7 linked regions of the Homo sapiens genome follow. The protein of the gene in region 1 interacts with the protein of each later gene in a biochemical or structural test. Each region holds a gene or a part of one and is shown on either strand. Other genes may lie near its edges. The genes, in order: IL16, SMCHD1, CD226, SEMA4F, GAGE12J, CGN and CACNA1D.

Evidence for each region.
Region 2: the proteins of IL16 (region 1) and SMCHD1 interact in a test that uses a peptide from one of them, tested with the Homo sapiens proteins (one large-scale study listed by IntAct).
Region 3: the proteins of IL16 (region 1) and CD226 interact in a test that uses a peptide from one of them, tested with the Homo sapiens proteins (one large-scale study listed by IntAct).
Region 4: the proteins of IL16 (region 1) and SEMA4F interact in a test that uses a peptide from one of them, tested with the Homo sapiens proteins (one large-scale study listed by IntAct).
Region 5: the proteins of IL16 (region 1) and GAGE12J interact in a test that uses a peptide from one of them, tested with the Homo sapiens proteins (one large-scale study listed by IntAct).
Region 6: the proteins of IL16 (region 1) and CGN interact in a test that uses a peptide from one of them, tested with the Homo sapiens proteins (one large-scale study listed by IntAct).
Region 7: the proteins of IL16 (region 1) and CACNA1D interact in a test that uses a peptide from one of them, tested with the Homo sapiens proteins (one large-scale study listed by IntAct).

What each region holds. Positions count from the first base shown.
Region 1 is NC_000015.10:81,290,879-81,294,378, reverse strand, and holds part of IL16 (pro-interleukin-16), read right to left. Parts: intron 1,824-3,500; coding exon 1,342-1,823; intron 1-1,341. UniProt on the Homo sapiens protein: Interleukin-16 stimulates a migratory response in CD4+ lymphocytes, monocytes, and eosinophils. Primes CD4+ T-cells for IL-2 and IL-15 responsiveness. Also induces T-lymphocyte expression of interleukin 2 receptor. Ligand for CD4.
Region 2 is NC_000018.10:2,658,726-2,662,225, forward strand, and holds part of SMCHD1 (structural maintenance of chromosomes flexible hinge domain-containing protein 1), read left to right. Parts: intron 1-3,500. UniProt on the Homo sapiens protein: Non-canonical member of the structural maintenance of chromosomes (SMC) protein family that plays a key role in epigenetic silencing by regulating chromatin architecture.
Region 3 is NC_000018.10:69,937,874-69,941,373, reverse strand, and holds part of CD226 (CD226 antigen isoform a precursor), read left to right. Parts: intron 1-3,500.
Region 4 is NC_000002.12:74,678,247-74,681,293, reverse strand, and holds part of SEMA4F (semaphorin-4F isoform 1 precursor), read right to left. Parts: intron 2,019-3,047; coding exon 1,960-2,018; intron 1,696-1,959; coding exon 1,085-1,695; 3' UTR 1-1,084. UniProt on the Homo sapiens protein: Probable cell surface receptor that regulates oligodendroglial precursor cell migration. Might also regulate differentiation of oligodendroglial precursor cells. Has growth cone collapse activity against retinal ganglion-cell axons.
Region 5 is NC_000023.11:49,320,701-49,324,836, reverse strand, and holds the start of GAGE12J (G antigen 12J), read right to left. Parts: upstream 2,801-4,136; 5' UTR 2,693-2,800; intron 1,652-2,692; 5' UTR 1,644-1,651; coding exon 1,560-1,643; intron 1,095-1,559; coding exon 974-1,094; intron 1-973.
Region 6 is NC_000001.11:151,510,091-151,514,186, forward strand, and holds the start of CGN (cingulin), read left to right. Parts: upstream 1-1,296; 5' UTR 1,297-1,425; intron 1,426-4,096. UniProt on the Homo sapiens protein: Probably plays a role in the formation and regulation of the tight junction (TJ) paracellular permeability barrier.
Region 7 is NC_000003.12:53,501,111-53,504,610, reverse strand, and holds part of CACNA1D (voltage-dependent L-type calcium channel subunit alpha-1D), read right to left. Parts: exon of another isoform or gene 3,164-3,500; coding exon of another isoform or gene 3,107-3,163; intron 2,997-3,106; coding exon 2,891-2,996; intron 1-2,890. UniProt on the Homo sapiens protein: Voltage-sensitive calcium channels (VSCC) mediate the entry of calcium ions into excitable cells and are also involved in a variety of calcium-dependent processes, including muscle contraction, hormone or neurotransmitter release, gene expression, cell motility, cell division and cell death.

The sequences.
Region 1 (3,500 bases):
TCTCAGCTGGCTGCTCCTGATTTGCCCTTCTGGACTCATAGGTCTCAGGCCCAAGGGAAAATGAAATATGGGCTTAAAAGAGGGGGTGGGAGAACAGATCCATCTGATAACTCCATCATGTGTTGCTAACCAGCCACATCCTGCCAGCGCTCTGCAAAACTGCACTTCCTTTTTAGTAACCTGGCTTCCTCCTCCCTCCTTCACTTTCACCCCTCCTACTCAACATCCCGTCTCCACCGCTACCCCTCCTGAAGCTTGCCAACCCTCACTGTAGATTGTTTTAGGGGATTTCCAGAGGCCCCCTCCCACCTGCCCACGGTGTGCTTAAGGGAAGGGCCAGGGCCCCTGCAGGGCCATTCCGTGATGGGGGAGACAGCTTCTGGGTAAGGATGGGAAACTCAGCATTGCATAGTGGGTAACTGTGACCCACTAGCAATGTGAACTTGAGCGAGTTTCTCAGTTCCCTCTTTGCACAACTGGGACTCTCACCATCAGGTGGTTGTAAGATTTAATTGACACAATGTACATGAAAGTACTCAGTGTGGTTAGCCTGCGCATAAAATGGTTCTAGACACAGCAGCTGTCTGTCAGTCAGTCTGCCTTTTATGCAAGGGGTGGAAAGGAGGGCTTTAAGGGGCCTGATGGGGAAAGATCATGGCAATGAATGCTAATATGCCTGAGATGCTGTCAGGTACTTGCCTTAAGTGGTTACCTTTAATCCTCACAATAGCCCTTGGAAGGAGCCACTCCTCCCGGGTTTAAGCAATTCCCTGCCTCAGCCTCCTGCGTAGCTGGGATTACAGGCACCTGCCACCATACCCGGCTAATTTTTGTATTGTTAGTAGAGACAGGGTTTCACCATCTTGGCCAGGCTGGTCTTGAACTCCTGAGCTCATGATCCACCCGGCTCAGCCTCCCAAAGTGCTGGGATTACAGGCATGAGCCACCGTGCCAGGCCCCTTTTTAGTTATTTAAGCCACTATTCTCCCTACAAGCAGGACACTCAAAGATCCACATGCAAAGACTGAGACCCTGCAGGGGCCCTGGTATTTTTCCTTCATGGTGAGTGAAAAATGACACAAGAAAGGAACCTTAAATTCCAGTGTGTTATGGGTGGGAACCCAGATGCCAGCAAGCAGGACTGGGACTTCAATTATCTGTCAACCTTCAAACCCATCTTTTCATGGTCAGTCCTCAGCTGAGTCCTAGGCAACAGTTTCTCTCTGGTGGAGCAGGAGAAACTTTCATTCTGGCCCTGCTAACACTAACTTGCTAATTTGCCCATGCTCAAGATTTGAGTCTGGTCCTGGAAACACTCAACCTGTGGACCCATCCTCTTACCTGGCCACAGGTGGGTGGGGTGTGCCCAGAAGAGCATGAGGAGTTCTCTCTCTCTTCCAGACTCTTCTGAGGGTCACTGTCACTTTTAAAGTATTTTCTGGGTGGAGGCTTGGGCTTGGAGGACATAGGCTTTCTCACCAAAATCTCAAAGGATTTCTTCAGTCTCAGCGGCGGGTGGCTGTCCCGGCTCTCTGGGAGGGGTGGGCTCTCCTGGGGCAGCCTGGAGGATGCTATAGAAAGCACCACTGGCTCCCGTGCCAGAGGCAAGCTGGGGCTGTGTGTGCTGATGTCCACGTCAGAGGACGGCTTCTCAGCACTGCCACTCCCAGGACTTCCCCCTGGGGACCCAGACATGTAGCTGCTGTCACTGCTGGAGCGGATCATGACCTTCTGAGCCCTGCGATGCGGGGGTGCTGAGTTCTTCTCTCGTTCCTTCTCCAAGGTGGGCCGCCCGTGCCAACTGCTTTCCAGCCTTTTGACACCTGTGTGGGAAGCACAAGAGAATCTTCACAGCTGAGCTTCAGAAAACAGAAATACCCCCTGGCCTCACCTGTGACTGCCACGGGCAGCACACTGCACATCGGCCATCTGCTTCTTATCTGAAGTCACTGTGGATCTGGAGTATGGCAGTCTTGGTGTTGGTCCCTGGCGAGCTGTATGACTTTGGGTTGGGAAAATCATTCAAGCTTTCTGAGCCTATGACTGATGTATATGGAGATATGCCACCCAGATCACCCATCGAGGAAGGGCTTGGTGTCCCAGCTGTGGGGAGTGCTGCTGGCAGACTACTTTCAGCTGTGGGTCCCTCCAGGGGCTGCCACAGCTGCAGACAGCTGCCTTGTCCAATGGGGCAGCCCATCTCCAGGGACTGCTGGAGATAGGGTTACAGAGGCCCAGCTATGTTGGCCAACATAGGACAACTCTAATGGGGACTTTGGCTGCAGAGCTCCAGGGCTTGGCTGAAGCTGTTGGGTGTGCACCTCAGCTCCGTCCTCCCTCTGTCTACCCTGCCTGCTCCCCTCCCTGCCACAGGTAGTGAACCCCAGGACACTGCCTGCAGACCAAACTCCATCTCAGAGTCAGCTTCCTGGGGGACCCAACTCCATTTCTGCATCTGTAAAATGAGGATGATAATTTTAAAGTCACTGGGGTTATTTTGAGGCTCAATAACAAAGACAGAGAAACTACCTGTCAAGGCACTTTGAATCTTACACGAAGAAGTCACTATTTCTTTCCAGTTGAGGGTGAGGTGAGGGCAGAAAGCCGCTATTTCTTAGCCACTGCACCTTCCTCCCTCCCTCCCCATTAGCCCTTCCTGGTTCTCAGTACCCCCTACCCTAGTTTCCAGCACTAGGGCTACCCACACATCCTTGAGAGGCCCTTCTCTCTAGTGGTAAGCTGTCAAGGGTGCCCCTTTCCTAAAATCACAGCTTGAAGGGGTGGGAGAGGATTGAAATCTAGTCTCTTGCTCAAATTCCAGCTCATTCTGAGAGACCAAGAAAGCCAGAGGAGCCCCATGAGAGAGAACCAAGGCCAGCCAAGCTCCTAACTCACTTTCTCTTTAAATAAAAAGTTTTCTTTTTTTTTTTCCTGATCATGAAATAATGCATCCTCCTTAGAGAAAACTCAGCCACAAGGAGGAAGGAATGAAAGTAAAAATTCACTTCACCTGTGTTCCTATCAGCCAGAAATAACTACTGTCAAAATTTTGGTGAGTTTCTCTGTCATGCTTTCCCGAGCATATATGCATGTTGGGTGGGTAGAAATAATAAACCAGAGCTGAAATAAATTGTGTTCTGTTCTTTTCTCTGAACATTTCCCCAGATCATTTAATTTCTTGTCAATATCAGTGCCAATGGTTGCATGTTGTTCTTTCATAAGGATGTTCCATGGTAGACGTGATTAATGCCCAATGGCTAGGCATGGGAGTCAAGCCAGCTGGATCTCCATTCCAGAGCCTCTGTGCTCTAGTGGTATGACTTTGAGTAAGAGAGTCTCTGAGGGCCTCACTTTTTCTTATAAAATTTGCATAAAAATTATGTGTGAATGCATGAATTAGCATAGTCTCTGATTTATTATAAGAATTATAAGAATTAAATAAATGTCAGAATTATATTCCCAAATGTTAGTTTTTCTAATATTCTATTATTATAAACTAG
Region 2 (3,500 bases), on another chromosome or scaffold:
AATTAATAATCTGAGATTACATGGTCAACAAGCAGTGAAACTGGGATTGGAATTTAGGTCAATTTGATTCCAAAGCTTATGTATACATATACATATATATGTGTGTGTGTATATATATGTATATGTATATATACATATATATACACACATACACACATATATACACATATATACGTGTATACGCATATATACATATATACACATATATACACATATATATACACACACATATATATATTTTTTACACTACTCCACACTATTTATTAGAACCATCACTTTTGTCCTTAGGGGAAGAGACAAAATAATATACTAAAGTTTTTGTTAAAATGTAAATTAAACCAATAAATGTTTGTAGTGTCAGGCAGTATTATGGGTGATCCTAAACTGTTACTTATTTATTTATTTTTTTTGAGACGGAGTCTCGCTCTGTTGCCCGGGCTGGAGTGCAGTGGTGCCATCTTGGCTTACTGCAACCTCTGCCACCCAGGTTCAAGTGATTCTCCTGCCTCGGCCTCTTGAGTAGCTGGGATTACAGGTGCCTGCCACCACGCCTGGCTAATTTTAATACTTTTAGTAGAGATGGGGTTTTGCCATGTTGGCCAGGCTGATCTTGAACTCCTGACCTCAGGTGGTCCACCTGCCTTGGCCTCCCAAAGTGCTGGGAATACAGGCATGAGCCACCACGCCCAGCTCTAAATTGTTATTTGAATAAAGTTCACCTCATGGAAAAGGAGAGGGAAGAAATGGAAAGGACAAATCTGCAAGAAGCCCTTAGACCTCTGATAAGCAGCTGTTGACTCACCTGAGCCCTTGTGGCCTTGCAGAATCAACGATTAGAAGATGACTCATTTGGTTAGTTCTAAAATATGCCCAGATGTTAAGTCCCATGTGTGCATATCCCCCCACCACCAATTTGAAGAAATTGTCTACATTTTCCTTTGTGTGGCTCCAATGTTTTTTGTTGTGCGGCTATTCTAGGTGTTTTGTATTTTAATATAAGATGTGCTCATCAATTTCTACAATAAACTTGAGATTTTGAAAAAAAAAAAAAAAAAAAGCAGAAAACTATGGCTTAGCAAGTGCCATAGTAAGGTAACGAAATATAATGGAGCCACATTAAAAGCTGACTAGTTTGCAGAGTTTCAGAGCAGTGCTAATTAAGCTGTGTGCTTTCTGACTAATCCATGGATGAAAATTACCTGTTGTTCAGAGATAGTGAAAAAATAATTTTAAAAATAAAATTAACTGATCATTTTGGTAGGTAATCATTTTATGCACTGCAAGTCAGTTAGTCCTTAAATATTTAAGAGAAGTTGGGGACGGCATAGTGGCTTACACCTGTAATCCCAACACTTCGGGAGGCCAAGGCGGGCGGATCACCTGAGGTCAGGAGTTAGAGATCAGCTTGGCCAACATGGTGAAACCCCGTCTCTACTAAAAATACAAATATTAGCTGGATCTGGTGGCGGGTGCCTGTAATCCCAGCTACTCGAGAGGCTGAGGCAGGGAGAATTACTTGAACCCGGGAGTCGGAAGTTGCAGCGAGCTGAGAACGCACCGCTGCACTCTAGCCTGGGTGGCAGAGCGAGACTCTTGTCTCAAAAAACAAACAAACAATAATAAAATAAAATACTTAGAAAAATTGTGAATTCAAGAAATAATTTTTATAGATGAAGCAGGGAAAACAAAAAGATAGTTTATGTGTCTTAATTAAATAATAATAAATTTATAGATTAAAAATCCATGGTTTTTTTTTTTTTTTTTTTGATGGGAGTTTCACTCTTGTCACCCAGGCTGGAGTGCAGTGGCGCAATCTTGGCTCACTGCAACCTCCGCCTCCCAAGTTCCAGCGATTCTCCTGCTTCAGCCTTCCAAATAGCTGGGATTACAGGCACCAGCCGTCATGCCCGGCTAATTTTTGTATTTTTAGTAGAGATGGGATTTTACCATGTTGGCCAGGGTGGTCTGGAACTCCTGACCTCAGGTGATCGATCTACCCACCTCGGCCTCCAAAAGTGCTGGGATTACAGGCATGCGCCACCATGCCCCCTGGAAAATCCATGGATATTTAATATGGATGAAAAATCCATGGATATTTCATATGGATTTTTGATGTGGATTAAAAACCATGGATTTTTAATATGGATTAATTTTAAAGTTTATTGCAGCACTATTTACAATAGTAAAGACGTGGGACCAACACAAATGCCTATTGATGATCAACTGGATAAAGATAATGTGGCACATATACACCATGGAATACTATGCAGCCATAAAAAAGAATGAGATCATGTCCTTTGCAGGGACGTGGATGAAGCTGGAAGCCATCATTCTCAGCAAACTAACACAGGAACAGAAAACCAAACACTGCATGTTCTCACTCATAAGTGGGAGTTGAACAATGAGAACACATGAACATAGGGCGGGGAACATCACACACAGGGACCTGTTGTAGGGTAAGAGGCAAGGAGAGGGAGAGAATTAGGACAAATACCTAATGCATGTGGGGCTTAAATCCTAGATGACAGGTTGATAGGTGTGGCAAACCACCATGGCACATGTATATCTATGTAACAAACCTGCATGTTCTGCACATGTATCCAGGAACTTAAAAAAAAAAAAAGATAGTTTGTGTGTCTTAATTGAATAATAGTAGATTTATAGATTAAAAATCTATGGGTTTTTAATATGGATTAGAAATCTGTGGGTTTTTAATATGGATTAGAAATCTGTGGGTTTTTAATATGGATTAGAAATCTGTGGGTTTTTAATATGGATTAAAAAACATCTGTGGGTTTTTAATATGGATTAAACATCTGTGGGTTTTTAATATGGATTAAACATCTGGGTTTTTAATATGGATTAAACATCTGTGGGTTTTTAATATGGGTTAAAAATCAAAAGAAAATGAACTATTTGCTCCAGTGCAGGAAAATACAGGCAATACTGGATACAATTAGATGGTCAGGAGCGATAACCCGGTTGCCATTGTTTGAAGAAGAGAATAAGGTGCTAGCATTCCTATCCGTAGATAATTTGACAGCTAGGAAATAGGGGGAGTCTTCTATGTAGTTAGTGAAGGCTAAATGAACTATTATATGCAGTTATCGTAGAAGAGTACTCAAAAAAATCTGTAAAAAATAAAGAAAGGCCGGGCGCGGTGGCTCACGCCTGTAATCCCAGCACTTTGGGAGGCCGAGGCGGGTGGATCATGAGGTCAGGAGATCGAGACCATCCTGGCTAACAAGGTGAAACCCCCGTCTCTACTAAAAAAATACAAAAAATTAGCCGGGCGCGGTGGCAGGCGCCTGTAGTCCCAGCTACTCGGGAGGCTGAGGCAGGAGAATGGCGTGAACCCGGGAAGCGGAGCTTGCAGTGAGCCGAGATTGCGCCACTGCAGTCCGCAGTCCGGCCTGGGCGACAGAGCGAGACTCCGTCTCAAAAAAAAAAAAATAAAATAAATAAATAAATAAATAAAGAAAGAAAGAAAGAAAGAAAGA
Region 3 (3,500 bases), on another chromosome or scaffold:
GTGTCTGTGGCTTCTCCAGTTGCATGGTGCAAGCCGTCTGTGGATCAGATTCAGATTGTGGGGTCTGAAGGATGGTGGCCCTCTTCTCACAGCTCTACTAGACAGTGCCCCAGTGGGGATTCTGTGTGGGGGCTCCAACCCCACATTTCCCTGCTGCAGTGCCCTAGCAGAGGTCTTCCATGAGGGCTCTGCCCTTGCAGCAACTTCTGAATGGACACCCAGGTGTTTCTGTACATTTTCTGAAGTCTAGGCAGAGGTTCTCAAACCACAGTTCTTGACTTCTGTGCACCCGCAGGCCCAACACCACGTGTAAGCTGTCAAGGCTTGGGGCTTGCACCCTCTGAAGCAACAGCCTGAGCTGTATGTTGGCCCCTTTTAGCCGTGGCTGGGACATAGGGCACCATATGCAGTCCCGAGGCTGCATAGAGCAGGGGGTCTTAGGCTTGGCCCAGGAAATCACTTTTCCCTCCTAGGCTTATGATGGAAGGGGCTGCCATGAAGGTCTCTGACATGCCTTGGAGACATTTTCCCCATTGTCTTGGTGATTTACATTTGGCTCCTCATTACTTATGCAAATTTCTGCAGCTGGCTGGAATTTCTTCCCAGAAAATGTTTTTCTTTTCTGTCGCATCATCAGGCTGCAAATTTTCCAAATTTTTTATGCTCTGCTTCCTCTTGAATGCTTTGCCCCTTAGAAGTTTCTTCTGCCAGATACCCTAAATTATCTCTCTCAAGTTCAAAGTTCCACAGATCTCTGGGGCAGGGGCAAAATGCCACCAAACTCTTTGCATAGCAAGAGTGACCTTTACTCCATTTCCCAAAAAGTTCCTCATCTCCATCTGAGACCACCTCAGCCTGGACTTCATTGTTTATATCACTGTCAGCATTTTGGTCAATGTCATTCAACAAATTTCTAGGAAGTTCCCAAATTTCCCACATTTTCCTGTCTTCTTCTGAGCCCTCAAAACTGTTCCAACCTCTACCTGTTACCCAGTTCCAAAGTTGCTTTCACACTTGTGGATATCTTTACAGCAACCCTCCACTCTCTGCTGTACTCATTTACTGTATTACTCAGTTTTCATGCTGCTAATAAAGACATACCTGAGACAGGGTAATTTATAAAGGAAAGAGGTTTAATTGATTCTCAGTTCAGTATGGGTGGGGAGGCCTCAGGAAACTTACAATCATGGTGGAAGGGGAAGCAAATATGTCCTTCACATGGTAGCAGGGAGAAGAAGAGTGAGTGCCCAGAGCAGGGGAAGCCCCTTATAAAACCATCAGATCTCATGAGAACTAACTCACTATCATGAGAACAGGATGGGGGAAACCACCCCCATGATTCAGTTATCTCCACCTGGTCTCTCCCACGACACGTGAGGGTTATGGGAACTACAACTCAAGATGAGATTTGGGTGGGCACACGGCCAAATTATATCATATGATCATGGAGACTGATAAGCCCAAATTTGCAGTGTGGGCTTGCAGGCTGCAGACCCAGGAGAGCCGATGGTACAGGTGAAGCCCAGGTCATCTGCTGCAGAATCCCTCTTGCTTGGGGAGGCTGGTCTTTTTGTTGAATTAGGCTCACCTACATTATGGAGGCAAACTGCTTATTCAAAATTCACCAATTTAAATGTTAATCTCATCCCAAAACACCCTTCAAATTGACACGTAAAATTAACCATCATACCTGTTTTGGAAAATGATATGGCATTAGCTAGTTAAAAACCCCAAATCCTATGATCCAATAATTCTACTCTGTTTGGTATCCAAGAGTTCTCTCATTATAGGGAAAATTCCTGACAATATTTATAGCAACAGTGATTGCAATAGCAAAAAATTGGTAACAACCCAAATACCCATCAACAGTAGAACCGAAAAGCACACTGAGGTCTATTCACACATTAGGATACTCTACATCACTAAAATGAGTGAATTATCACTTGCTCACCGACATGGATGAAGCTCATGAACTTTGTGTTGAAAGAAAAGAGCAAGTTACCAAAAAAAATAGGTAAACTAGGGTTCCTTTTCTTTAAAGGTTTTAGAAATATGCATAATTAAACAATACGTTATTTATAGATACAAACGTGGTAAAACTATAAAGAAAAGCAAAGTTCAGAAACATGGTAGGTGGGGGATAGAATAGAATCAGGAAGGGCTGAAAGGGTCTTTAAGGCTCATAGTCAGGGTGTTTTCCTTATACAGGTGTTTTATTTTGCATTTGTCTCAAAATGTTTTAGAAGATTTCTTTCAAATCTACTGATTTCTTTTTCTTTTCCTTTTTTGAGACAGAGTCTCACTCTGTTGCCCAGGCTGGAGTGCAGTGGCATGATCTCAGCTCATTGCAACCTCTGCCTCCTGGGTTCAAGTGGTTCTCCTGCCTCAGCCTCCTGAGTAGCTGGGATTACAGGCCTGCATCATCACACCCAGCTAATTTTTGTATTTTTGTAGAGATGGGGGTTTTGCCATGTTGGCCAGGCTGATCTCAAACTCCTGACCTCAGGTGATCCACCCCACCTTGGCCTCCCAAAGTGCTGGAATTACAGGCATAGGCCACCTTGCCTGGCCAAATCTACTGATTTCTAATGGTGAAAAGAGATGTGATTGCAATTTTTGAGCAGTTGAAAGCTCTAAGGTAAGGATGAAATCTTCATTCTGATATGGCCTGGGGGCCAGGTAGAGGTAAGTTTCAGCAATGGTTTCAAATTTTTATGATCCAAGGACTAAAAAATGATGATTTTAGTGAAAAAGATGTGAAATTAAGAGACCAACTTGGCTAGCAAGAGTGGAATTAAGTCTGTTTCAGGTGTATTAAATTGTAAAGTAGCCTTTGACCAGCTGACAATTGAAATTATGGAACAACAAACCAGGATTGAAAATATCCAATTTGAAGTCATCTGAATGATCATCCAGCACATGTGGATGGATGGGGTTAACTAAGAAAGTACCAATGGATGGGGGCAGAAGTCTAAGGTCATAGCTTGTGGCTTGGAGGATGGTCACATTGTAGTGTGTTAAAGAAGGTGTTCATGTTAAAGAATGTAGAGGGCATAGAGAAAAGAGGGGGAGAGTTGGGAGGGAGAGGAAAGTGAACAGGTGAATTATTGATGTGAGAGCAGAAGACACATAGAACTCATATTTATAGTAGAGGGTTAGATTTTCTTGCTCCACACATGCAGGTACTTTGTGTTGGCTGTATTGTATGTTTGCTGACTCTGTGATCTCCCATATTCCAGTCCATTTATCTCAAACTGGGCACAGAGATGTTCCTCACTGTTTCCCTTTAAGAGTCTCATTCTCTCCCAGGTGGGATGAGGCTCCTTATATGCCATCCATGCTCATTCTTAGAAGGCTCTTATCTCTACACCCTTCAGGGACAAGTGTTCTCTGTCCAGGTTCCCAGCAGCTGACATAGCAGCCAAAGTTTTCTTTCATTCTTGTATATATCTGCTGGTTAGTGGCACTAAAGAGATTCCTTTAATATTAAGGGCTCCAGA
Region 4 (3,047 bases), on another chromosome or scaffold:
TACAATTTCAGGGAGTCCATGGACCCCAGGTAGGGGGGACTCCTGCTTTAGGGCAAGGGTGTCACCCTGAGTAGTCACTGATTGCAAACGTATCTTTATACTGCTCGTATATCCTATGACTGTTCCCCTTCTGTTGTTCCCTAATCATTAGAATGTTGTTGATTTTTAATGGGAGCCAAGGAAATGGGGTACAGCCTACACTCCAGCCAGAGAAAGCAGCTGTGACATGGCAGTGGTGGCAGCCAGGGGGTAAAAACAAAGAAAAGGATGGGGTCATGTGTACTGCTGCCCTTCCCACCCGGAAGGTCACTTTAGGAGCTTTTCTCTACTCAAATTTAGAGTAAGGTTGTGGGGCAATGGGGAGAGGGGCAGTGTTTCAGTTCCTTTTAGAAAGGAACGCCATTCCCTCTATGGCTACAGGGTCTAAAGTTCTGCAGGCAACGCCCCCATTCCAATTGTCTCCCTCCCCATCCCTCATAAATATTCCTAAGCATCGGCCCAGTCATTCATGCACATGTGGCCAGGTCTCTTATGAACACTATGTATTTACACGTACTCTTTCATGGAAGGAAAACTGAGATGGGGAAGATCTCAGGGCAGAGACTCCATATTGCAACATGGGGATCATGCACTCCCCACAGATTCAGATAAACTTGAAGAATAAGCAGAACCACCCCAAGGACTCAGGGCACATTTGCCCCCAACCACCTCCAGGGCTCTTCCTTCCGGCCAGGCTCCAACCAGAAAGCAAAGTCATAGCTATGCCCTGTGCCCCATCCCCAAAACTAATGGGCCCAAGATAGGGGGCCAGGGATGAAGGTTTACAGGAGTTCAGATGTTAGGGGGAAGCCCTGATTTGCTGCAGAAAGCAGTTCTGATTTCTCATGGGAATCAGGAATCAGGCAAAGGTCTGGCCCCAAGCCCATCCAGGCTCAGAGAGAACAGATACTAAAATCCAAGTAATCACTCATACTCAAAGAGAACTCAGAGGCTGGGATGGTCTTCCAGGCCCAGTGACCCCCAGCATCTCAGTGGTCACTCCGTTCCAGTGATCACTTATACACTAGTGGTCATTTGCCCAGCTCTAGATGGATGTTTCATCACATGTGGCTAGAGGAGCCCCAGTTAGCCGAATGTGGGCTGGGCTTGGGCAAGGATCAAGCAGGAAGGGTGGTGAGAATCCACCAAAGCCACTGCCCCTCTTGGCCAGGGCCAGCGGCAACCGCTCATCTTCAGGAGAGGGGGAGGGAGGGTCTTGGCTGTAGCTTGTGGTCCCAGAAGGTGGAGCCCCCAGGTCCAGGCCCACCTTGTCTCTAGCCAGAAGTTCCCTCTGTCGCCGTCGCTGCTGACGCCGACCAATCAGAATGAGAGTCAGGGATGCTGCGAGAATCCCCAAGAAGAAGCCAGCCAGTCCCGCCCCCACTGTGTGGGCCCGGCTCGGAGCATCTCGCTGGCTGCCCCATACCAAGCTGTAAGCTGCTACCACATGGGCTGCCCCACCCTCCTGACATTCACAGGCATAAGCGCCCATGGCCCCTGGGGTCACCACCACCTCCAGTCCATCCCGCCGGGGGGTGAGTGCAGTCACTCCACTGGGCTGGTGCCACACACAGGATGCCCATGCTGAGCTTGGAGAACATGGCAAGACCACATGCGCAGCTGTAGCCACGGGAACTTCAAACACTACTGGACGTTCTGTGAGAAACAGCAAAGGCACAAAAGGAGGTGAGGCTAAAGGCTGGAGGTGTGATGAAGAAAAGTGTGGGGTGATGTCGGACATGAAAAGGGGCTATGGAGACTAAGCTAAAAAGGGGATTCCTAAAGAGGCTAAGGCCCGAGGTTCCTGGCTGCCACATCTTCCAGGATCCAAGGTTTAGAATCGTTCCAAAATGAACAACTCTCTAGCCCCTTTCCATCCACTCCACCCACATTTCCCTAATCCATACAGACCATACAGACCTCCAGGCTCTTTAGGACACAAAGAGGAGACATCTGCTGACTCTATGTCTTGGACCAACCTATAAAGAAGAGAATGCTTGGTAAATCCAGTGTGAACATTCCCTTCAACCCCCCTCAGTATTACTGAAGACTCCCTCATTCAATATATCTCCCATCATCCCAGAAATCACTCCAGAAATTATCAGTCAAGTTTCTCCTCATCACCAAATTTTTCCCCAATACCTCTTAATATTACTCATGACATTTCATTTGCCATATCAAGTTCCATGCATCTTTCTAGCAGACCAGTGATAGCTAAATTTGCACTAGGTCTGTTGTAAAGATGTTTAGTGGGGGTGCTTTAAAAGAAACAGAATCTTCTAAGAAATGAACCTGGTTCTCCACAACCACAAGATTTCTCTAGGAAAAAAAAGGATAAAAACTATAGGGATTTTTTTTTCTCTTATTTAAGAGAAAGAGCAAACTCCTTTTCTGTAGAAGCTAATCAAAATTCCTTTAGGGTCAGTGAGGTGACTTCTTGTTTCCTAAAAGCTACTTGTCTCTACAAAGGAACTCTTCAATAGTGGTTGATATATACTGGCCTATGTGTTATTTCAAAGGATCTGGGGTCATCCAGCCGGAAGCTCCAGGCACAGTCCTGTCACTTCCAGGATTTGGGTGGACTATATCTGATGGAGGATAGCAAGATGGACTGCTCACTGCTGAACTCTCTGGCACCACTCGCAGAGGCTGGGAAGTCAATGAGACCCCTACACTAGGGTTGTCAGTGAAAAGGTCTGAACACAAAAAGCCTCAATCAAACACAGACTCATCTGAGTATGAACTCCTTCAATATGAATTGAGGTCCCTGAAATGAGCTCCCAAGACTGGTATGAATAAATAGATGGAAATTTCTTGGGTAAAACCAAGGTTGATTAGTCTAGCTGAGAGTGGGGAACACAGGAAGACCACATGCACAGCTGTTGCCACAGGAACTTCACAGTCTATGTTCTTCTCCCTTGGATGAACTGAGGTATGGGCAATGTACACAAGAACAACCCAGAACACTGGCATAAACACACAGCCCACACTCCCCACCACCCCCCTCC
Region 5 (4,136 bases), on another chromosome or scaffold:
TTACCTATTGGGGTAAAGAGAAACTTCACTTTGTTCAAATAAAGTTATATTTAGGTCCGAAGGTCCTAAAGGTAATATTCCATAAATGAACCCCGTGAAGAACAAAGCACCAAATATAACATTGTTTGTGAATCACAGAAAATATACTGTCCCGCACTGAGAATAAGGGAGTGGGTGGACAGCAATTAATGGGCATTGTTGTCAGTCAGATTCTAGGAACTTTTAACAGTGCATCCCTGGAATAATCCATGACCTCCATTACATAAACGCTTCCTTTCAAAACATTTTATCTCGGAGAAATTATTTCCATCTCACGTTAATCTCAGGATAATTCCGTTTTTGCTTTTCTAACCATAAAAGGATTTAATCACCTCCTAAAAGCCGCTGAGAAAAATCACTAAACCAGCTACCTGTATGGCAGTATCCTCATTTATCCAGCTTTTATCAAACGTACCATATAAAAATATCAATCAAAGGAAACGGGGGCCAACATTCAGCGACTCGGTTTTTGGAGCTGCTCCTGCTCCTCTGAACTGGGTCTATTCTTGGGTCAGTACTAAGCTACCTTACAGTAAAGCCTTTTGAGTTTTAAGCATTTTCAGCAAAATCACTTCCTTCTTTACAGCAACACACATGATAGGAAGACACAAACCTTGGAACACAATACAAATGTTGTATTCACCAGTCAAGGGTTCTTGGATAACACACAATCCTGGCACCTCCATTCTCTCATTCATAAAGTCGAGAACTTTTATCATAGTGAGGGATTTGCCTAAGCTAAGCTGCAAACTACATAGCCTCCTCGCTTTTCCAGTCAATTTCAGGCATTCTTTCCATTGTTTTCTTTCCTCCTCTTCCTCCTATGTGACAATGCCTAACACACACACACACACACACACACACACATGCACACACACACACGAACACACACACACGCACACACCAGCAGACGTTCTTCTTCCCTTTCCCTCACCTTGACCTGCAGATGCTCCCTCATCCTCTCCCTCCTGAGCAGCTGCAGGATCCTGACGTTGAGTTGCTGGTTCCCCTTCTTCAGGTGTTGCTGGTTCCACTTCATCACTGAACTGCTCGGGCTGGGGAATACGTGTGGGTGTGCAAATAAAAAATAAGTTTCGTTATTGATACAAAATTTTACATATATACACAGAATACATAGCTATTTCTGGTCCTAACTAAGCCTAAAGACATTTCTCCAACTCTATGCTCTATGCCCAATAAGGTTACTCCACCCACAGGGAGGTTACTGTGAGAAAAGTGACGCACGAGGACTTTGGAGGCTATTGTACTCTGTGTTGGAATACATGTGTACAATCTGTCATTAACAAACAAAGCCGGAGAAAGAAGTCATGGGCAAAAGCTGAAGAACACGAGAGGAAAAAAAAAATCCTCCAGAATCAATGTTTCCTTCATGAGATGCCATCATCATTTTTTATGAGCAGGAAAGACCTTTATCAGCATTTCCACACTAATGCAACAACGCTATCACAAAAATTAATTTCTACTAATAGAAAACATCGAATTAACGTTCAAGCACTCACCCGCATAGGCCCAATCATTTCAGGAGGCTGTACATAGGGTCTTGGTCTAGGCCAATAATAGGTCGATCTTCCTCGCCAACTCATATTTCACACTGAAAACAGACAACCGTGATTGGGAACGTGCGCTCCACAGGGCTGCTATATTCGATCACTTCCATGGATAAATGTAAACTTGCCGTTTTACTTTTGAAAATACTCTCAAGATAAGTCCCAGAGTTAAGCATACGTGTGTACGCTGTCTGAGTGCCTACAAAGCCACTTCTGCTGGCCAGGCTGGCAGAGCAATCATCTTAAGGCATGTGGCAAAAGGCAGAGGACATTTTTTTCTAAATTTCTTTTGGACACGCGGTCTCGCTGTGTTGCTCAGGCTGGAGTGCAGCGGCGTGATCACAGCTCACTGCAGCCTCGACCTCCCGCTCAAGGGATCCTCCCACCTCAGTGTCCCGAGTAACTGGGACTACGTAGGCGAGCGCCACTGCGCCCCGCAGACAGAGGTCATTTCTGATGAGGTTTAGTTTCACAAGTGCACTCCCCACGAAAACCCTAGTGAATCACAATTCTCGTGATTGCTGCTTTGGGCACACTCCCACTTCCTAGAGCCATTCACCCCCCCTCACAACAAGTTTGGTTGGACCGCACTGCCTCGCCCACTCCTTCCCACTGTTTTCGGACCTTCCATGGCGGAGGTGAGACCTTGCAGTGCTTCTCACTCAGGCGCTCCGCACTCCACACCGCTGGGGGGGGCGCTCACCAGGCCGCAGCCTTCCCAGGTGCCAGGCCCCTTCTTCACCGCCCGCCTCGCCCCCGCCGGAGGCCCCATTCAGGGAATCTGCCCTGTGTCGTCGGGGGTTCCCGGCACCTCGGGACTTCCATCCCCCCAACAGCACTCACCCCATCTTCACCTGAGCCCCTGACCGCCTCCCCTCCACGGCCCACCTTCCTCCCCGTCCAGGCCCCTTCACGACCACGAAGCCGCCGGTGGCCTCGCAGCCTGTGAAGGGAAGGAGGACGACCTCGTGGCCCTTCTCCCTCGGAGGCCACAGACCAGGAAGCGGGACCCGCCTGACCCACCCAAGGCCCTCTCCACCCTCACTCACACTTCAGCCCCCGGGATGACTGGCCTGCAGACCTACCAGATGAATCTCAGTAGAGGAAAAAGAGTCCGGACGGCAGGAACCACACAGCACTGCCTCACAGCTCCCTGGCGTTCTTCACGTGGGCGAAGGGGCCGGGCAGAAGACGCCCAGTGAACATGCGCACTGAGGCGGGAGCCCAGGGAGCATGCGCGGCTGTGGGCTGGGGAGGGCTGCCGTTCCCAGCGCCACGCCCCAAACCCTCCATGCCCATCCTCATTGAGGATAAGGGAATCCCACCTCCCTCTGCTGTTTCCTATGCCTCTGGGACTCAAGTAGTGCTCCCCTCAAAACTCACCCCATCTTCAACTGAACCCCACCCCCAACCCAGGGCCCTCTCTTGCCCCGGACCCACCATGGGGACAAGGACCACTGTGACTGGCTGGGAAGACAGGTAAACCACCTGCGAAAACAGAAATAGCAACCTATCCCAAAAGGAAATTGTTCATTGTGAACAAGTCAGAGAAAGAGACTGAAAGAAAAATGAATAGAATCGCTAGGACCCGTAAGAAAATGCTAAAACGATATCTATCATTTGTAGCATCAGAATCACAGAGGGTGAAGTGACAGTATTAGGGAAACAGGACAGCCAGAGTGAAACCACGTGAAAATATACTCCGTCTTGAAAGCAGCAAGATACATAGTCCTACCAGTCACAACCCATGGTCCTAAGATGTTTGGAGTTGAGAAAACAGATGAAAGGTACCTCCAAGGACATGCTCCCACAGCAGCGGAAAGTGCACGGTTCCCAACACCCATTAACAATATATGCTTTCAACAGAATTATGCTTTCATGGCCTTACACACTGGTAAGTCAAGGATAGTTTTCTTTAAATCAATAGAATGATAAAAGTCATCATGCTCTTAGCCCACCCGCACAAAGGCACAGATTAACTTTAGTCTTTATATAGATAAGACCCCTATATAAGAAAAACCAGACCAGGCCAAGGCTCACGCCTGTAATCCTAGTATTTTGGGAGGCTGAGCTGGCCAGATCACCTGAGCTCAGGACTTCGAGACCAGCCTAAGCAACATCAGAAAATCTCATCACTACAAAAAACAAACAAAAAACCATCGAAAAATTAGCTGGGCATGGTGGCATGTACCTATACTCACAGCTACTCAGGAGGCTGAGGTGGGAGGAGCGCCTGAGCCCAGGAGGTCAAGGCTGCAGCGAGCTCTGATAACACCACTGCACTCCAGCCTCGGTGACAGAGTGAGACGCTGTCTCAAGTTTTAATAATCGAACCTAAAAACGTACAAATTTATCAATCGAATTCACTATATTAACACATGAATGGGAAAAAACGCTGTGGTAATCGAAATAGATGCACTGTTTGATGAAAATCAACATATATTCAAATGAATACTCTCAGCAAATTTGGAACAGAATGGAATGACTCACTCTGATAAAGTCCATCTACAAAAAAAGGAGAGTGAATAG
Region 6 (4,096 bases), on another chromosome or scaffold:
TTGCTGTTCCTCCCCAGGGAACAGGCCGGTTTGATGGCCCTAATCCTTATATACAGCTTGCTCTGGAATGCAGAGACTTTGCATCCCAGCTGAGGAGCTGGTAAGTGGACTTTACTCTGTAGGACCCACACCTAGCTTTTGAAGGCTTGGGGAGGGGCGGAAACCAGCTCCCGAGAATACACCGGAATCTGTGCTGCATCGAAGATTCCTCTTCTACTCCAATAGATACAGGGTAAATATTTGTTGTAACTAAATGAGAACAAAATCCGGAGCCCAGCAACGTAAACGAAGTCAATCTCTTTTTTACATATCTCAACGGTTAACAGCTAGGATGCCAGCTTTAATGTTGTTTTAACTGCAGCTGGTATGAGCGGTCCTGCAGTTTGCAGAGCCCCTAGTTTTTACTCTTTTCTAGGAACTGGGATCAGCATCCCTACTTTTTGAGAGGCTAACTCTGAGGTAAATTTACAACTGAGTCCCTTTCAGTTTAGAACGAAGGTCATTCCTATTTTGGTAAATTTGCGTCCCCGGTTTCCATTCATTCAGTCAACAAATATTTATTAAGCATGTAGTATGTACCAGTCCCTGTTGTAGGCGTTTGGGGTGAAGCAAGGCACAGAACAAGAGATCCTTGCTCTGGTGAAGCTTATCGTAGGACGGGAGGCAAAATGATGAAAATGATTTTTAAAATTATGTTATTAACTAGAAGGTGATAAATATTACATAGAAAAAGATGTCAGGCTGCAAAATGATTGCGGAGGCCACAAGATAAAAGAGAATCCAAGATCAGGGTTCTGGTTCGGGTCAGGGAAAAGGGAGACGAGCTGAGGTGCAGGAGGCTCTGACGTCGGGGGACAACGGAGATATTTTCTGCAGAAAGTGACGAAAGAGCATTCTGGTTCCTGCAGAGGTAGGTGAAGGACAGAAAGGGCCCTGGCCGGCGATTCCCTTGGAGTAAACGGGAGGCAGGAGGCTGTTTTCTAGCAGAGCCCAGAAGATGCTCTGGCCGACGGCTCCCGGGATCTTGGCCGGCGGTCACTCGCGACCATCCGCGACGCCCCCAAAATGGCCTCCGCGCCCCTCGCCGCCCCGCCCCGACGCTCCGCAGCCCGTGGGTCCACGTGACCTGGCCCGCCCTTCGCGGCTGGAGACCCCGGGTCCCGGTCCCCGCACCGGAGGCCCCGCCCCCTACGGGAAGCGGACCAACCGGAGCGGGGAAAGGCGGGGCGGGCACTGACGGCCCGCGGGGGTGGAGCTCCGCAGCGGAGTAACAGGTTGGTGGGAGGGAGAGAAAGGAGGGAGCTCCGAGGACGAGGGGGAGGGCCGGAGCTGCGCGTGCTGCTTTGCCCGAGCCCGAGCCCGAGCCCGAGCCCGAGCCCGAGCCCGAGCCCGAACGCAAGCCTGGGAGCGCGGAGCCCGGCTAGGGTGAGTGGACCCGGTGCGGGCCAGGGCACCCGAGAGGAAAGCGAGCCTTCAGGGGTACCTTTGAGGGGCAGGCATCGAGGCGGTGTGAGATGCCCCTCTCCAGGGCACCGGTGCCGAGTGGGAGACGGGAGGAGGGGAGATTGGGGCGGGGTGGGGTACTGATTAAGAGCCGACCCCTACCCTGAGGTGCCAGATGCAGGTGGCTAGGAAGGTGCCAGGCGAGGGGCACCTGGGGCGAAGGCTGTTCCCAGCGCATGAAAGCGTTTCAGCGCCAGATGTCTCTGGAGGTCAGACGCCAGCCCTAGGGGCAGAATTTCTCTTGGAGACAGCGGTGGCGCGGGGAAGGAGTTAGTTCCAGCTGAGTCGGGAACTGCTGCTGCCTGAGGTGCAGACTCGCCAGGGGAGGGCATCTGCAGGTGCTGCTCGCCTGAGGGTCTTTCCTGCGTCCTGCGGTCTCAGCTGGCCGTTGTCAGCACCCTGGTGGCTTTGAGATGACTCTGAGGTGTGGGATTTTTTCCCCAGCCCTTCACCTCCGGCCGAAGGCAGTTGCGAATCAGAGACACTGAGGGGCAGATGAGAGGGCACCCTCATCTCTTCACCAGGTGTACAACCATTAGGCTTTCACTTTGTGTCCTTTGCTTTCGTGCCAGGGAGAATCGTTCCTTCTTCCTCTTGAGAGAGAGAGAGAGTACTCCCCAAGAGAGGGATATGAGGAAGCAAAGAGCCCTGCCTGGTCCTGCAAAATATTGATAAATATTAATACTTATTTCTCAGGAGGCCCCTTTCTGGGGGCGGATGTCAAACCCTTTCTCCAAGTACCCACATATTTTTTCTGTGGTTCTAGATGGGGACCATTGGATGAGGTTTGGGAGCCCAACCAATTTCCTTGATGTCTGGAGGAATCCCCATTACTCCCTGAACGCCCTCCAGGCATCCCTGACTCCTGAACTGCGGTGGCTGTCAGAATGGCAGCAGGCACTATTGGGGCAGGAAATAGGCAGGACTCATCAGGAGACCACGAGACTAGGGAAATTACAACTCCAAATCCCCAGGACAGATGAAAGGTGCACCTTGGGGCCCAGACAAGACTGGAGGCAAATTTCTTTGCCTTAGGCAGGTAAAGGAACTAGAGTCAACCTTAGCTTGGCCCCTTTGAAGCCCTGCCTGAGGAAGGTTGTTGTAATTGGGAAATAATTAGCAACCGCTATGTTTGTAGATGGGCTGCCTACACATGCCTATGCATCTCTTCTTTCATCCTGGATGTTTGGGAGTCTGGGGGCTGGCTCTGGGGGACTGCTAATCCAGAGATTTGCCCGACTCTAAGAGGATTCTGGCTTCCTAGAACCCTTCCTGTGTTTCCCAGGCTGGCCTGCATGCCATTCCCCTTGTGGGAGGTGATGGGGGTGTAGGGCTCTTCTCTTTGTGCCAGGGAGGGGCGGACTGAGGACCAGGGAGGTGGCCAAAGCAAGTGTGGGATCAGGAATGCAACTTTGGGAACCTCAAAGGGAGGGGTGGAGGGAGACAAAGTCTCCCTGTCACATACTGGCCTGTCACCAGGTTCCTGTTCATCTGCTCCTCCTGCCTGTTCCCTCCCTGCCCTCTGTCCTCTCCTTCAGAGCTTTGGCTTTGCCATCAAGGCTGGAGAGCCCCTGCCTGTGGTCTTGCCCCTCTGCCTCCTCCGTGGTGTGGAATTTCTCTGGTCTGCTTTACAAGCTGCCAGTGTAGTTTCCCCGGCCCTCCCCTTCCCCTTGCCTCTCAAACCAGTCCAGCCAGTTTGCAGGGGCCCAGTTCCTCATTGTGTTTTTTTCCCTACTGGCCAAGCAGCTGTAGCCTGGCTCTCAGGTTTCTGCTCTTTCAGCGGACCTGGGCAGGAGTCCACTTGGGGGATTCTTTTTGGATCCACGGGGAACCTTCTTATCTCTAACTATGAGAAAAAGGGTGCCAAATCATCAAGGTCACTGAGCTGTCCTTTTCTATTTCGACCATTTGCTTTCCTTGTTTCCTCTGAGGGGATTCTAATCTCTATACCTCAAGTTCTCCCGTTTTCTAAATCTGCCAATTATTTAGCATCAAGCATATTGCCTGGCCCTATGTGAATCAGTCCTTCCTCCACACACCCGAAACCACCCCACCCCCACTTCCTGCCAGAAGTCCAGATACCCTGTCACTCCTAGTTGGAAACCAGATGCATATGGCTGGGCCAGAGGTGATGGAATTGGGGCAGGGCAGGCTAATGAGTAACTCAGGGAGAAGTGGCTGTCTGGTACAGGTGTAGAGTGTTCTCCCACTCCTTGCAGGCAGGAAAGGCAGAAGCAGACAGATGCACCTGAATCAACTTGTGGTCTGGTCTCTTCCTGGAGTACAGTTGGTGAGGAGAGCCCTGGACATGTGATAGGGGAGAGAAAAGTAGGGTCAGGCATTGGTGAGGGCGCAGGCCCTGGACTCCATGTTGCCTGGCCCTTGATCACTGTTTACCTGCCTGTCTCTGGGGCTTACGCAAGGCCTCAGAGCTGCCCTGCTGCCTTGGTCCCGCCCCACTGTCCTCTGTAACCAAAGGCGGGTAGGTTTCGGGTTTTCCATGTTGAATCATTTAGAGCCCTGCTTTCTGACCCACCCCAAAGATCCCTTCAGCCCTCCTGGCCCCTGATCCACATGTCCTTGGACTGAAGGT
Region 7 (3,500 bases), on another chromosome or scaffold:
GTGGGAACTGAGTTGCACCGTTTCCATGACTCCAGCCTCCACTAGCCCTGCAAGTCCATAAACGAAAGCTGCAGAGAAACTTGAGAGTGTTTATATTTTTAAAAAAATAAAGAACAAAAACTATCCCTGGGAAAACTTCTGCCCCCCAAGGTAGTCTCCAAATCCCAAAACTAGCTGAGTTACATACTATCTAGAACAAAGACACATTGGATCAATGGGGATGGCCACGTTTCTTCCCCAAAAAAAGTCATAATTTTACTAGGTAACTGGTAACAGGCAGAAACATCATACATAAAGCTGGCCCTGGATCTCACTCTATCGCTCAACTGCATCTTTCCCATGGAGCTATCAGGCAAAGAAAACCAGCAGCTTCCAGATACATGCAGCCTTGCAACTCATTTCAGCGTCTGCCCTTTGATTTTACCATTCACATTAAATGAAAGGTATTTACTACAGATGAAAAATAAGTTTCGTTCAGCTGCCTCTAAACCAATCCCAAAAATAGAGCAATCACTCTAGTACAAATTGGGTCAAATGTATTTAAAAAAAAAAAAACAAAAAACCAGCTCCCTCATGGGAGGACCAACATGGCATGGGACCTTGCTTAGAGTCAGAAGGAAATCCACAAAGATCTTCCCTTCCCACAGTGGGAAAGGAAGTATTTAAAGAGTCAAGCAGAGTAAAAATTCATCTGGCCATGTGACCACCCAAGTGAAAGCAAGACACAAAGTTGAATGCCATGAGTTTCAGAATACTATATGAAGAGGTCAAAGGAATATACGTTGGCTTTTAGAAAGGCCCACCAAATTAACACACTGCCAAATCCCCCCCCACAAAAAAAAAAAAAAGTTCAAAGCTTAAGAATAGTCAAGAAAAGATTCACTGGAGAAGGGGTGCAAAAGGGAAAGATTAATCCATTTCCTGTATTTTATTTCCTGACTTCTTAGCTGAGAAATCCAAATGGTCTGACAGTGCCTATATCAGTGCCCTGAATTTCCCTGGGAAAAATTCAGAATATTAATTGGCTTACACATGCAGCTACATTAATTATTCCACTGATCTGAATTAATCTGCCTTTCTGAAAGGTATTTATTTTCTAAGTTTGTTTAATCATGTTCTCTTGAGCTACGAAAAGTAACAATCTGGGTCACCATCCACGTCGTTAAATTTGGTAACAAGGCTAACACCATCTGTGGCCTAGACTACGATGATCTATCTCCATTGATGGGAGGCTTTCCACCACTTCTGCTTTTTCTTTAAAACAATCATCTAATGTCACATGTCTACAAAGAAATCAAAAGCTACATAAAATGTCCAAAGTTACACAAATGATCTCTGGCATTGTCCAAATATATACTACCAGTGTTTATGTGGTTATCCGACTCCCATTTATAGTTGTATTTTCAGCATCAATTCCCAAAATTTTTAGAAAATTCTCTAGATATCAAACTACTAAAGCCCACATACAAATAGACATCACATTACATCTGAAATGTGCCACAACATTTTAAATGTAACATGAAATCCTGTACATAAATCGTTAAGGCTTATTCACAAGAGCATAATTTCACTATCTTCAGAAGCCAGCAGAGCTCTCCCACACAAGGGAGAGCCTAGTGTGTTTGCCTTTACAACGCTCGCTCAGTTAGGAACATCCAGCCCTGCTAAAATAGAGCTTCAACATGAGAAGCCAAAAACAAACGGAACCAGCTAAGAGAAGAGAAGAAAAACAATAGAGTTTCCTGTTATCCAGAATGGGCTCCCCTTCATCTCCCATTCTGCATGGCTTCTGATTGCAAAGAACCAATCCTTGCAAGAAGGATGCTGCAGCACCAGAAAAATCCTGAAATGGCTTCTGAATCATCAAAGAAAGATTGCAGAATGTCAGAGGTAAAAACGATACTAGCAATCTTCTTACCCAATCCTCCTAATTGCCAGGTGGCTGCACAGCAATGCAGAAAGGTATGAGAAATGACCCCAAATACAGCTAGTTGACAGGTGAGTGGGACAAGATCCTAGTCCCAGTCTAGTACTCTTTAGTGCTTTTTTTTTAAAAAAAAAACTATATCAACCTTTCCCAAAGGAAGTTCCATGGACCACTGGTTCCATGATGTTAAAGTCTTTTGCCAAAAAAAAAAAAAATGTTTAAAGAATTCATGACTGATTACTTTTAGGGACTAGCTGAGTTAAATAAAAGGAAACCTGTTTTTTAACTGCAGAACTTCCCAAAGCTTTTACTAAGCTAATGTGCACTATAAATCTTTAAGAAGGCAGCAAAGTATATGGAAGCATCCTGATTTATTTAACCATACAATCATTTTCTCTTGGAGCATTTCATAGGACGTGGAGTAGAAACTTTAATATTATATCATGTATTCAATAATATCATGTATTATTCTCCAAATTATGCTCTATGTAGATTTATTAGTTTTGTTATATTCTACTTCTCTAAAAATAGTTCATGTACAAAGTCTACGATAATTCTCTACTTACCAGAACAACTGACCAAAGTACCCACCACTCCCAAGAACACTAGATTAAAAACAAAAAAAAAAAAAGAAAAGAAAAAAGCTAATATTATCAGGAAAAGAATGGTAGCAAAAACTTATGTGGAGATAACAGTTATTTTAAAATCTGCTCCAAATCTCTTCCATAAAAATTCCATATCTATTTATAAAAGATTCATGACTTTAAATACTTTCAGTCAGTATAAATTTGAGAATACAGGTTAAAACAAACAAACAAACAAAAAACCACTGTTGCAAAGCTCCAAGAAACACGACATGCATAGCTATAAACTTCAACCACCCAGAAGGCCAGCTGCCAGTTTAAGTATAGAAGCAAATGATAACCATATACCAGGACCAGCAGGAACTCTAAGGACACTTACCAAGTTATGATTTGTTGAATTAGAATCATCTTCAGGGAATGGGATGTAAATAGCTAAGGCCACACAATTGGCAAAAATAGCCAATAATATAAATATGTCAAATGGTCTGAAAAAATGTGTTAAGGTATATATGTGTTATGGAAACATAAACCATGTCCCTCATCACACTCCCGATCACACCACTTTCAAAGCACTTTTAAAAGGAAAATGACATACACAAATCCTATTTCGGCTGACTGCTGTGACTGCTAGGTTTTCGGCAGAAGTAATCATCGGTGGTCATCTCACAGTGGAGCCTCCTACCAAATGACCTCTCCGTGTCCTTTTCTTCTGTTGCAAGGATCATGTTACACTCATTCTTCGGCTGCACACTGCATATTAAAACCTAAAAGTACATCCAATTAGGGCACTGTGTGAACTAGGTTTCTGCTTCTTACAGGTTTAAAAGTGACAAGAGCCTTACTAAGTTCCCGGCTGTGGTAGACACAGAGAAATCATCATGGGATAAATGTCTTCCGCAGATCCTTGCCTCCATGTGTTAGAGCCATTTTCTCAGGGGCTATTCTTGGCAGGGTCAGCCTAAATCGCCTGTCTGGACTGGGCCAGGCCA